3 linked regions of the Homo sapiens genome follow. The protein of the gene in region 1 purifies or fractionates together with the protein of each later gene. This does not show direct contact. Each region holds a gene or a part of one and is shown on either strand. Other genes may lie near its edges. The genes, in order: TMEM62, HERC3 and UFD1.

Region 1 (3,654 bases):
TTTAATGCTTTGTTTTGGCTAATGGTACTTTTAATATTCCACACGGGCTTAAAAAATTGTTTAAGTCATTGATACATAGGAAAAGTCATTTATATCAGAGCTTGTCAGCCACACTACTGAGGTCACTGGGTTTTCAGAATCCTGAGATACTGATTCTCCTGGCCTCTGTGGTGGCTGGAGAGCCCAGTTAGTCACCTGGCTGCTTTATCTTTTCATCCTGTGTCATACAAATATTAAAATAATCTTTATTTGTCACAAATGTGAAAAGGCAAGGGATCTCTGAATTAGAAACCAATTGTCTAGTTTCATTATGTTTAGATTCCTCTTTTGGTTGCAGTGCACTTTTCAGCCTCAGGGTATTCAGTAGCTTTGTTCTGCATTGTCAATCAATCATGTAGCAAATATTTATTGAGAATCCATCCCTAGTTGGATAGTGTGAGAGATACATGAGTTAATGTTAAAAATTTGGCTTTTGCCTTCAAGGAACTGATAGTGTAGTTAAGGGACATCAGAATTATTTAGGAAACAATTAGAAAATAACATGAAGAAATGGCCGAGGAAATGCTAGATTATTTGGTACACATGATAATCACTATGAGAAATTAGAAAAGCATGGGGGTGGACATAGAGAAGACTTTATAAAAGAAGCAAAAAGTGTGTCCAATCTTAAAAGATGAGTAGCATTTGAAGAAGTAAGACATGCCAAGGAGGATATTTTAGGCAAAAAGATAGGTATGAAGAGATCTTTAAAAGCTACAGACTGGGAAACCAAAAACTGAACTTTGCAGGGGCAGTAAGAAAACTGGTGTCACCAGAATTAACATTCATACTGAGGACTAGTATGACACTGGATAGGCAGCCTAGGGCTAATTTATGGAGGTCTTAAGTAACAAGCATAGAAGTTGAGATGTGATGGGTAATAGTTCATAATTCAGCATAGGTTCTTAAGGAGGCAAGTAACATAATTAAAATAGTGTTTTATAAATGGCAATCCCACAATAAAAAAGGAAAAAGATGGGATAAAAAGGAAAAAAGAGATATTGGAGTTATGTGGACTAAATAGGAGGGTCCTGCAATAGTCTAGTCATGATAATGAAAAGTCATACCCATCTGAACTAAGTTCTTGGATATGGAGATGGTGACATCAATTTGAGGATGATAGGTCAAAAAGCACTGGTTAACTGAGTTTGTATGATTAGAGTCACCATACATTGGAAGAGGAGGTTGTTCTCTTTTGTTAATGTGAGAAAGGAAGAGGACAGAGATGAAAATCTTTCACTTCCTGTTAACTGTTTGTATCTTTCATGGTGACTGTGGGGAGTTAGGAGACATGTTCAAAAGTAATTAACAGGACTTGGGGCTGAGTGGTTATTGGGAAAGTAAAGTGAATAGTCACTTTAAAGTTTCTTACCTTTGTATTTTTGTTTTTAGCCACCTAAACTTTATCTGAATTTAATAAATGGCATTTTACTAAAAATATAAATATTACAGAAATACCAATCTGAAGAAAAAAAATTAAAGTTAAATCTTGATCTTAAAAATGTCCCAGAGAGGAGGCAGAGCTTGCAGTGAGCCAAGATCGCGTCACTGCACTCCAGCCTGGGCGACAGAGTGAGACTCCGTCTCAAAAAAAAAAAAAAAAGATTCTGAGGAATAACTGAACATAAAATAAGCAAGAAAAAATATAAGTAAAAATTTTAATTTAGAATAAAACCCTGAAATAGAATTTTTTTTTTTTTTTTTTTGAGACAGAGTCTCATTCTGTCATCTAGGCTGGAGTGCAGTGGCACGATCTCCACTCACTGCAAGCTCCGCCTCCCGGGTTCAAGCCATTGTCCTGCCTCAGCCTCTGGAGTAGCTGGGACTACAGGCGCCCGCCAGCACGCCCGGCTAATTTTTTTGTATTTTTAGTAGAGATGGGGTTTCACCATGTTAGCCAGGATGGTCTCGATCTCCTGACCTCGTGATCCGCCTACCTCGGCCTTCCAAAGTGCTGGGATTACAGGCGGGAGCCACCGCGCCTGGCCCTGAAATGGAAATTTAAAAAATACCAAGAAGAAAGGCAGTAGAACTAATTGACATTGTTTAAATTGGGTTTGACTAATTTCTGAGTATTAGTTGTAATGTCTATATCATATATTTACTCGGGTTACATTATATTTGATGGTTGTTGTGGCCCACTAGCATATTAAATTTCAGGAGTTTATTTGTATTTTTAAATATATGCTGTTAGGTAAAAATCATGTAAGACACTTAGATAAATGATAATACCAACTTTTCTTATAATGTTCTGACATTTGAATAATATAGGTATGCCCTCCAATAAAATCTATACTTTCCTTCTTATTTATTCAACACATACTTAATGAGTGCCTGCCCTGTACTGTGTTACTCATCCTTTCTTCCTGGTCTTCACTCTGCAGTTTTATGGACACCTGAACACTGTTGACGCTTAAGGTGGTAAACTTTCATTAGTGGATATAGACCCTGTGTATGTTATCAATATATCTTTAGGAACTGAAAAAGATTTAACAACCCAGACCTAGACTAATATTTTTTCTCCTTGCTTGAAGACTTCATCTTTGCAAGTCTTTCTTGTGAATTAAGCCTCTGTAGTCCTGTTTCAAGAAGTAGACAGCTTTTTTATCTCACTACACCAAGAATTCTAGGTACTTAGTATGCCCTCACTAAATCTGCAAATGATTGATAAATACTGTTCCACTGGATTTTGATTTCTTTTTGAACATTTAATGGACTCCCTAAAAGAGCCGTCTTACTTCTGAACTTGGTGAACTTGTATTTGGTTATTGAATGAGTTTGCATGAGTCTTTGGGGACAATGGGAGAAAAACTTTGAAATTTCATCAGTTTATCCATTGTGGATCTAGTTTAGTATATTTCTGTCAGATCAGCAAATCTCGTTTTCAAAGGAAGGTAAAATCTAGCGTATTAGGGAAGGAATTTTAAAGCATTGTCTTTTTATTACACTAACACCCTCCTGTCTTCTATTTTTTAGGAAATATTCTGCTGTACGTAGAGATGGCTCTTTCCATTATGTCCACAGTACTCCCTTTGGCAACTATTCGTTCATCTGTGTAGATGCCACTGTAAATCCAGGGCCTAAGAGACCCTATAATTTCTTTGGAATTTTAGATAAGGTGCAGTAAAAATCTTACTTCCCTTTGTAGCTTACTTATTTTTTCATGGATACGTGTGGATCACTTAAAGTTATCAAAAGTAAACTAGTTGTTATCTAGGAATGCTTTGGAGAAATTTAACTTGGTTACAGGTATGGCTAGAAGTTACTGGCTATTTCAGCACTATTTTTGCTATCCTTTTTCTTGTCCCAAAATCTGAGAAAGAAGTACCTCACACTTTATGGAGTAAACATTTATTAAATAGGTACTGAGTACAGGATGCACTTTGCAAGTTACAGGACATACAGCTTTGTGTGGTATATTCCTAAGTTCCCACAATTGCCAGTTCTAACTAGTGTTTATTTTTTGAGACGGAGTTTTGCTCTGTCGGCCAGGCTGGAGTGCAGTGGTGTGATTTCAGCTCACTGCAACCTCCACATCCCAGGCTCAAGCAATTCTTGTGCCTCAGCCTCCCAAATAGCTAAGATTACAGGCACGTGCCACCATGCCCAGCTAAT
Region 2 (3,654 bases), on another chromosome or scaffold:
CAGGTGTTCTAGTTGATGTGAAACAGAGAGGTGGCAATATCAGAAGAAATCTTACCTGACTTTCAAGTTTTAGAGTTTTTTCATTTTTATTTTTCCAGGCTGGAAAATACAAAGAGAACATAATTGTTCAATTTTACACTTTATTTTTAACTTCTAATTATTGATATTTAAAAGAATACCCCAAAGTAGAGAGTATGCTACAGGTAGTCACCACACAAATTCAGCAGTTGTCAGTATTTTGCCCATTTTATTTCATCTGTCCCTCGCCCTCACCACCTTTTTATTTTTTGTTGGAGTATTTTAAAGGAAATCTCAGACATACTATTTCATTCTTTAAGTATTTCAGTATGGCTGAGTTTATTTCCAACGAAGTATAAGCCAGTGGTATATCTTCTTGTCTGGTTATGAGAAAGCATTTTTTGGTGAGAAGTAAAAATCGTAGTTTTTCAACTAATGATACCTCTTAAAGGGAAGGGAATGGTTGCCATATTGGTGCTGCTTCTAGGGTATGTGGTGCGTCATCCTTTGCATTTCTGCTTCAGGATTTAGTGATGGCTGAAAGCGCTAGGACATAAGAATGCTTTTTGGATTAATACATTGGGCATCACTCCTGCCCAAAATATGTGTATCTTGTCCACATGTAGTCTGGAATTGGACTTTTAAGTTAACCTTCAGATTGAGTCTTTGCAAAAAATCAGACCAGGCTTTACAAAAAAAGCTCCAGGGATTCTTTTACAGCTGTTGTTCTCCCCAAAAAGGTTTTAATGGATTCTTTTTAAAGTCAGTTTTGGGAAAATGTATTTTAGACTAATGTTTATCTTCTAGACAAAGCAATTTTTAACTGGCAGGCAGAAGACATAAATACTTGCCCAAGATTACATGTTGAAATATGTCTTTTCTTTCTTTCTAAAGATAACTGGTGGTCTCAGGTATGCCCGAAATATTTCATGAAGCTGGTAAACCTCTATAAAGGTGCAGTCCTTTATCTACTGAGGGGAAGAAAGACATTCTTAATTCCCGTACTGTTTAACAATTATATCACAGCAGCTCTCAAACTCTTGGAGAAGTTATATAAGGTGAGCATAGGAGGTGCTAGTGGGGAGGGGGTGATTAGATGGTAGGGTAAAATGTCCTAGTGAGATGTTCTCTGGGAAGCCATGTTTCAGTTGTCTGTATTTTGTTCTTCATTAGGTAAATCTTAAAGTGAAGCATGTGGAATATGATACATTTTACATTCCTGAGATTTCCAATCTCGTGGACATTCAGGAAGACTACCTCATGTGGTTCTTGCATCAAGCAGGGATGGTAAGAATTCATAAAGCATATTTTAAAGCTTTAGTCTTTTTATAAGAAAAGCACATGTGAGCTGTATAATATGTCTTTGACTTTGATGTCAGTGTGTCACCTATTCTTCATCCAGCTGGCCTTTTGCATTCTAGAAACTTGGAAGTGCTTTAAGTAATCATCAATGTTATAAGGAGTCATAAATGAGTAGTCACCCAGAATGTTACACATTTTATCAGTTGCCCCCTTTAAAAAAATCAGAGTATCTAAAGTAGTCAAATCCACAGAAACAGAAAGTACAGTGGTGATTGCTAGGGGCTGGAGGCAGGGGAAAATGGAGAGTTGCTATTTAATGAGTATAGCTTCAGTTTTGCAAGATAAGAAAGTTTGGAGATCCAATTGTACACCAGTGTGACTATACTTAACACTGCTGAAAGTGTACACTTAAAAATGCTTAAGATGGTACATGTTATGTTAGGTTTTTTTTTAAACCATAATTAAAAAAACAAGACACATACAAATATGAATTTTTAGCTTTCCTCAAAACTTGGAAGATCTGGCAACACGACCTGTCTTCCCATATGACACCAAGTGGCTGGAGTTCAAGAGTGACTCTTTAGATGAGGCTTATGTATATGCCACAATTCCCACTGCAGCGTAATTTATCCCTGACATTGAGGAAGGGTCATTTGCTAATTATCATCTTCTGACAGCCTACTCCAGTCATCATATGTCAGCTACCTGGACCCCGTAGGCCCCTTCTGATTGAGAATTATGTGTGTGAAAGTGTCACACATCCCTGACCAAGTGCTGTCTCACCGTATTTTAGATATGCCATTCAGGGGCCTGTGGATTCCTGCCTACCACCTCTGGCGTGGCAGGAACTGCTCCTTTTGATAGCACACCAGCTTGGGATATATGCAAGGCTCTTTAGGATCTCCCATCTGTGGAGTATGTGCAAATTTGAGTTAGGTCAGAAAACAGAATGATAATTTGGTTATTGTATTTTGTGAAGCCATGTGCAGCAGATTTGAGGTGAGTCCTTGCCAGTGTAGCAGGTTCATCACCAGTATTAGGGCAATATTTTTCCTGTGGGGTTTTTGGAAGTCAGCAGTTGTCTCCAAAAGCAAGACATTTAAATAGGCTGATCTAACTGAACAAGAAGGATTGTTTTCTTTGTCAAATAATAGATGATGAATGCTAGACACAATGTTGTATTTTTTTCTCTAGAGACTTAAAAAATGCATACAATGTTTTATTTTTAAATAAGATTTTATGATTACCCTGAGAAAACAAAATACTTTTTTTTTGAGACAAGGTCTGGCTCTATCACCCAGGCTGGAGTGCAGTGGCACCATCTTGGCTCACTGCAACCTCTGCTTCCCAGGCTCAAGCCATTCTCCCACCTCAGCCTCCCGAGTAGCTGGGACTACAGGTGCGTGCCATCATGCCTGGCTAATTTTTGTATTTTTTGTAGAGATGGGGTTTTGTGATGTTTCCCAAGCTGGCCTTGAACTCATGAGCTCAAGTGATTCACCAGCCTCGGCCTCCCAAAGTGCTGGGATTACAGGGGTAAGCCACTGTGCCTGGCCAGGAAAATACTTTTTAATATAAATGAGTTAGAGTGTTCTAAATGGGCTGACTTGGGAAATTTAACATGGAGGCTAGTAATGAACTCTGTTTTCACTTTCAAATTTAGGAATTATTAAAAAATAAGCCCTTCTGTTTTATCAATTTATGAATAATTATTCACTGAATAATAACATTATGAGCAGAAAAATAAGCCTGATGAATTATTTAGTCCAACTGCTTTGTTTCTAGATGAGGAAATGGAAGTTAAACAATTTTTCCACTAATTTCATTAGTAGCAGTAAAAGTCAATTCTTCTGATTTCTAATCTACCCTTTCTGTGACTTGATGCTGAATAAAATAAGTCTAACAAATTGTAATTCTTTTTTACTCTGAAAAAGAAGTTGCTCATGTTAAAATCTAGATTATTATGACAGTAGTCTCTGAGTAGAGATATTTAAGTAACTTTTACAATATTTTAAACTTCCTTTCTTTTAACATTTGATAAATATCTTATCAGATCTTGAATAACAGATGCTCATCTCTTCAATAACTATAATAGTTATTAAAGAAATATGGAAAATTACATGAAATTAGTATATGGCCTTTTGTGATTTTTGTGGAATTTTTTTTATTGTATGAGGTACAATGCTATTAGAAATTGAATTTTAAATGTCTTGATATTTTGAAGTTTAATTTAAAATACTAAAGCTATTTCATATGTTATTTTTGTTTAACTACTTTTAAATAATAGATGGATTTTTTTGATGTGTGTTGGCATTTTTAGCTTGTTAATAGCTG
Region 3 (3,654 bases), on another chromosome or scaffold:
GTCCCTTCCTAACCACCTATTTAAAATAGCATTCCCAGGAGCCCTGTGTCTACTTACCCTGCTGCTTGTCTTCAGAACTGCCAGACACACATGTGTGTGTGTCCGTTGCTTGGAGTGTATATCTCTCTTGCTTTGAGTGTCATTTTCACCAGGACAGGGGTGGTATCTATTTTGTTAGTGGACAGACATCACTGGAGTGGTGCTTCCCTTGTGCTCATATCAGAGCCTGGCAGACAGTAGGCACTCAATAAAGAGATGTTTCAATTAACAAATATTGTTTAGATTAATGATAATAGGAAAAGTGTTCAAGGCAGAGGAACTAGCCCAGGCAGGAGTCTGTGGGGCTGTCAGTACAAGTCTCTGAGGTATGCAAGAGGTTGGGCCTTGATCCTGAGGATGAAGATGGGAGCATAGCCCTGAAAAAGGTTCAGGACAGGCTTGGCATGGCCTGTTTTGTATTTAGTAAGATTACATTGAAGATTTCAGTACATTGTGTTCTCTGACAATGTTTAGTAGCATTAATTACTCTGACATGTTTTGGCTTTTGACATGAAGAAATGTACCTTTGTTTTAATACTTGTTTCTCTTTCCTCCTTCTAGTTCTCTTTCAACATGTTCGACCACCCTATTCCCAGGGTCTTCCAAAACCGCTTCTCCACACAGTACCGCTGCTTCTCTGTGTCCATGCTAGCAGGGCCTAATGACAGGTCAGATGTGGAGAAAGGAGGGAAGAGTATGTGCTTGTTTTTATTTGAATAGTAACTTTTCCTGCCCTAAGTCTGCAATGCTGTAGCCTTCAACAGTACTTACTTTGCATGTGGGAGTCAGAAGCTAGTGTTACTGTGAAAATGGTGCTGGGATTTATCCCTGACTTGCTCTGTTGGGGTGGGGTGCTAATTATGGTTAGGTTTATGGCTGATAACCATTCAGTTCCCAAAATAAATTACATCAAGTAAGATTCTTCATGAAAGATCACTGGGACATTCTGGCTACCCTAAAAACAGTTTAAGGCTTTTTGTTAGATATAAAGAAACTGCATCTTGCCTTTGGTCTGTCCTTTTTATTTTTATTTTTTAATATTTCTTAAATGTTCTTTCCACAGTAATTATGCCACCCTCGGCCCTGGACCAACTCAGTAAGTATCTTCTGAGTGACTTAAGGACTTAGATAATGTACATATGGACACCAAGAGTCAGCATGGGCTCCTCAGTACATCCAGACACCAGTGCCCTTTGTCAGCATCTGGTTGTGAATTGTCCGTGGAGGGCATGCGCTGGGCTGGGAGAACCTGGGTCACAGGTACCTAGGGCGAGGCCAGGGCCCCCTGAACCTCAGCTTCATCACTGCCCTGGGTGCTTCAGGTTCCTCCTCTGTGAAGGGGGTTCCCTTTCCCTTCCTGATCACCACCTCCACCCACCCCCCAACTGTTCTCAGTATTCTGTCAGGATTAAGTGAAGGTACAAGTATCAAGTGCTTTGTACCGTGCCAGGGCAGCTGATGCCATTGGCTGGGCTCACTAGATTTTTTTCCTAAAGGAAGAATTGGTCAGCTCACAAGAGGGCGCTGTGAGCAGGTTCCTCATCCCCTCACCAAACATCTTTCCTGAGCTCCAGACCCCCATTTCTTTTCTTTTATTTATTTATTTATTTATTTTTTGAGACAGAGTTTTGCTCTTAGCGCCCAGGCTGGAGTGCAGTGGCGCAATCTTGGCTCACTGCAACCTCTGCCTCCCAGGTTCAAGTGATCCTCCTGCCTCAGCCTCCCGAGTAGCTGGGATTACAGGCACCCGCCACCACGCCCGGCTAATTTTTTGTATTTTTAGTAGAGATGGGGTTCCGCCATGTTGGGCAGGCTGGTCTTGAACTCCTGACCTCAGGTGACCTGCCTGCCTCGGCCTCCCAAAGTTATGGGATTATAGGCGTGAACCACCATGCCCGGCCCAGACCCCCGTTTCTAATCTCCAGTGCACCAATGCATCCTCAGCATGTCAAAAACTGAGCTATTGTCTTCCATCCAGAAGCCACTCCTCTTGCTGGGCTCCTGCCTCTTACCAGGAGTGAGATAGGCCCACAGGGGTTCTAAGAGTGGCCACATTCTTCCTCCCTTTTCTCTGACCCCTTATCCCATGAGAGCAACCTGGAAACCCATGCCCTAGCCCCATACTACACAGGCACAGAAAATCCCTATCATGGACAACCCAATCAAGGATGCAGTCATTGCCTTCCAGACTTAAAGAGTGTTTCTGGTGTGAATTCTTCCTGTGTGAGGCAGGAGACTGGGGTTGGCCAGGAGGACAGGTTCATGCTTGGTTTTGGGGGCCTCTGGTGGCAGCAAGCAGAGAACAGGTGCTGGCTGTGGTGTGACTCACCTCGGGCTCTTTGCCCAGCCTGACTCCAGAGTAGCAACTTGACCTCTCTGAACCTCAATGTCCTCTTCTTTAATTGGGGATATCTACAGTGTCTGTGCATCAGAAGTACTGTAGTGTCTGTGACAACCTAAGCTATCCGATTCCAACCACAAGGTGGAGGTAGCCCCTGAGCCAGCACTGGCTGTGGCTATACCCAGTGGAGGCCTCAGCTCAACCAGTAGGTCAACAGAGCTATGGAGTTCACAGTTCTCACGAAGACCCTGTCATTACAGAGGAGAGAACAGGCTCCCTAAAAAGGTCTTCCTTTCAAGTCATGCTGACCCAGGAGCCAGACACCAGGGGTGACCCTTGGCACAGGTGTCCAGAAGAGACTCAGGGGCTGGGTCATTGAGGTGTAGCTCAGATCAGTGTTGTTCAAATCTTTTAAGTGATGGGAGAAACTCTTTCTGTCTAAATCTTATAGGAAGTCCTCTAATTCATAAAATGAGGTTCTCTGCTTTTTTTGGAGAAAGTGAGGGGGTACAGAGGGACTGGGAGCCCCAGGGCACTGGGAGCCTCTAAGTCACAAAATGCAGTTTGAGAGTCAGTGGACTGAGGGACATTGGAGTCTCTTTCACTTGCAACAATCTCAGACCCTTGGCTGAGCCCAGTCCAGTTTACTGTGGACCAGCTGTATGTCAGCTCCATGGCTGTGCAGCTGAGAGGTGGACCGGGACAGAGGTCCTGGCCCCTTTACTGCCAGTGTGAGAGTCACCCTTGGTGATAGGAGGGAGTGCCCACCCTTACTGTACCTCCATGCTACTCTCAGAGGTTCTCTGTAGCTTCCTGCCCAAGCTTTTAACTTGATTTGCTTTATTAGAATTTTTAGGGAGATCTCAAATGGAATCTGCGTTACTTCCTAACACTAAGTGTGATTTTTATTGGAATATTTGTCTGAACTAACAAGCTAAATTCTGCTTTGATGGTTGAATCCCTGGACTTAAGCCAGCAGCCTTGGTTTGAATCCTGGCATCACCACTTGTGTGCTGTGAGGTCTTGTGTGCTCACCACTTGTGTGCTGTTACTTAACCTGTGGGCCTTAGTTTCCCCATAGATAAAAGGGGATAATGATAGTACCTACCTGACTGTTCTGGGAAGACTGAACAAGGGCCTTACACATGGCAAACACCATCACTACCATCAGTTCCTTCTCGGTCTTCTCCCGGGGGCCCAGTGTCTCCTGGGTTTTCCTGCCTCTTTTTGCCAGCCCTTCCTTTATGTGCCTGTGCACCTCTTGGGTCAGCACG

Evidence for each region.
Region 2: the proteins of TMEM62 (region 1) and HERC3 purify together in Homo sapiens (affinity purification with mass spectrometry, with the first as the bait; one large-scale study listed by BioGRID). This does not show direct contact.
Region 3: the proteins of TMEM62 (region 1) and UFD1 purify together in Homo sapiens (affinity purification with mass spectrometry, with the first as the bait; one large-scale study listed by BioGRID). This does not show direct contact.

What each region holds. Positions count from the first base shown.
Region 1 is NC_000015.10:43,143,478-43,147,131, forward strand, and holds part of TMEM62 (transmembrane protein 62), read left to right. Parts: intron 1-3,015; coding exon 3,016-3,157; intron 3,158-3,654.
Region 2 is NC_000004.12:88,668,948-88,672,601, forward strand, and holds part of HERC3 (probable E3 ubiquitin-protein ligase HERC3), read left to right. Parts: intron 1-912; coding exon 913-1,076; intron 1,077-1,191; coding exon 1,192-1,305; intron 1,306-3,654. UniProt on the Homo sapiens protein: E3 ubiquitin-protein ligase which accepts ubiquitin from an E2 ubiquitin-conjugating enzyme in the form of a thioester and then directly transfers the ubiquitin to targeted substrates.
Region 3 is NC_000022.11:19,472,549-19,476,202, reverse strand, and holds part of UFD1 (ubiquitin recognition factor in ER-associated degradation protein 1), read left to right. Parts: intron 1-599; exon of another isoform or gene 600-600; coding exon 601-733; intron 734-1,102; coding exon 1,103-1,135; intron 1,136-3,654. UniProt on the Homo sapiens protein: Essential component of the ubiquitin-dependent proteolytic pathway which degrades ubiquitin fusion proteins.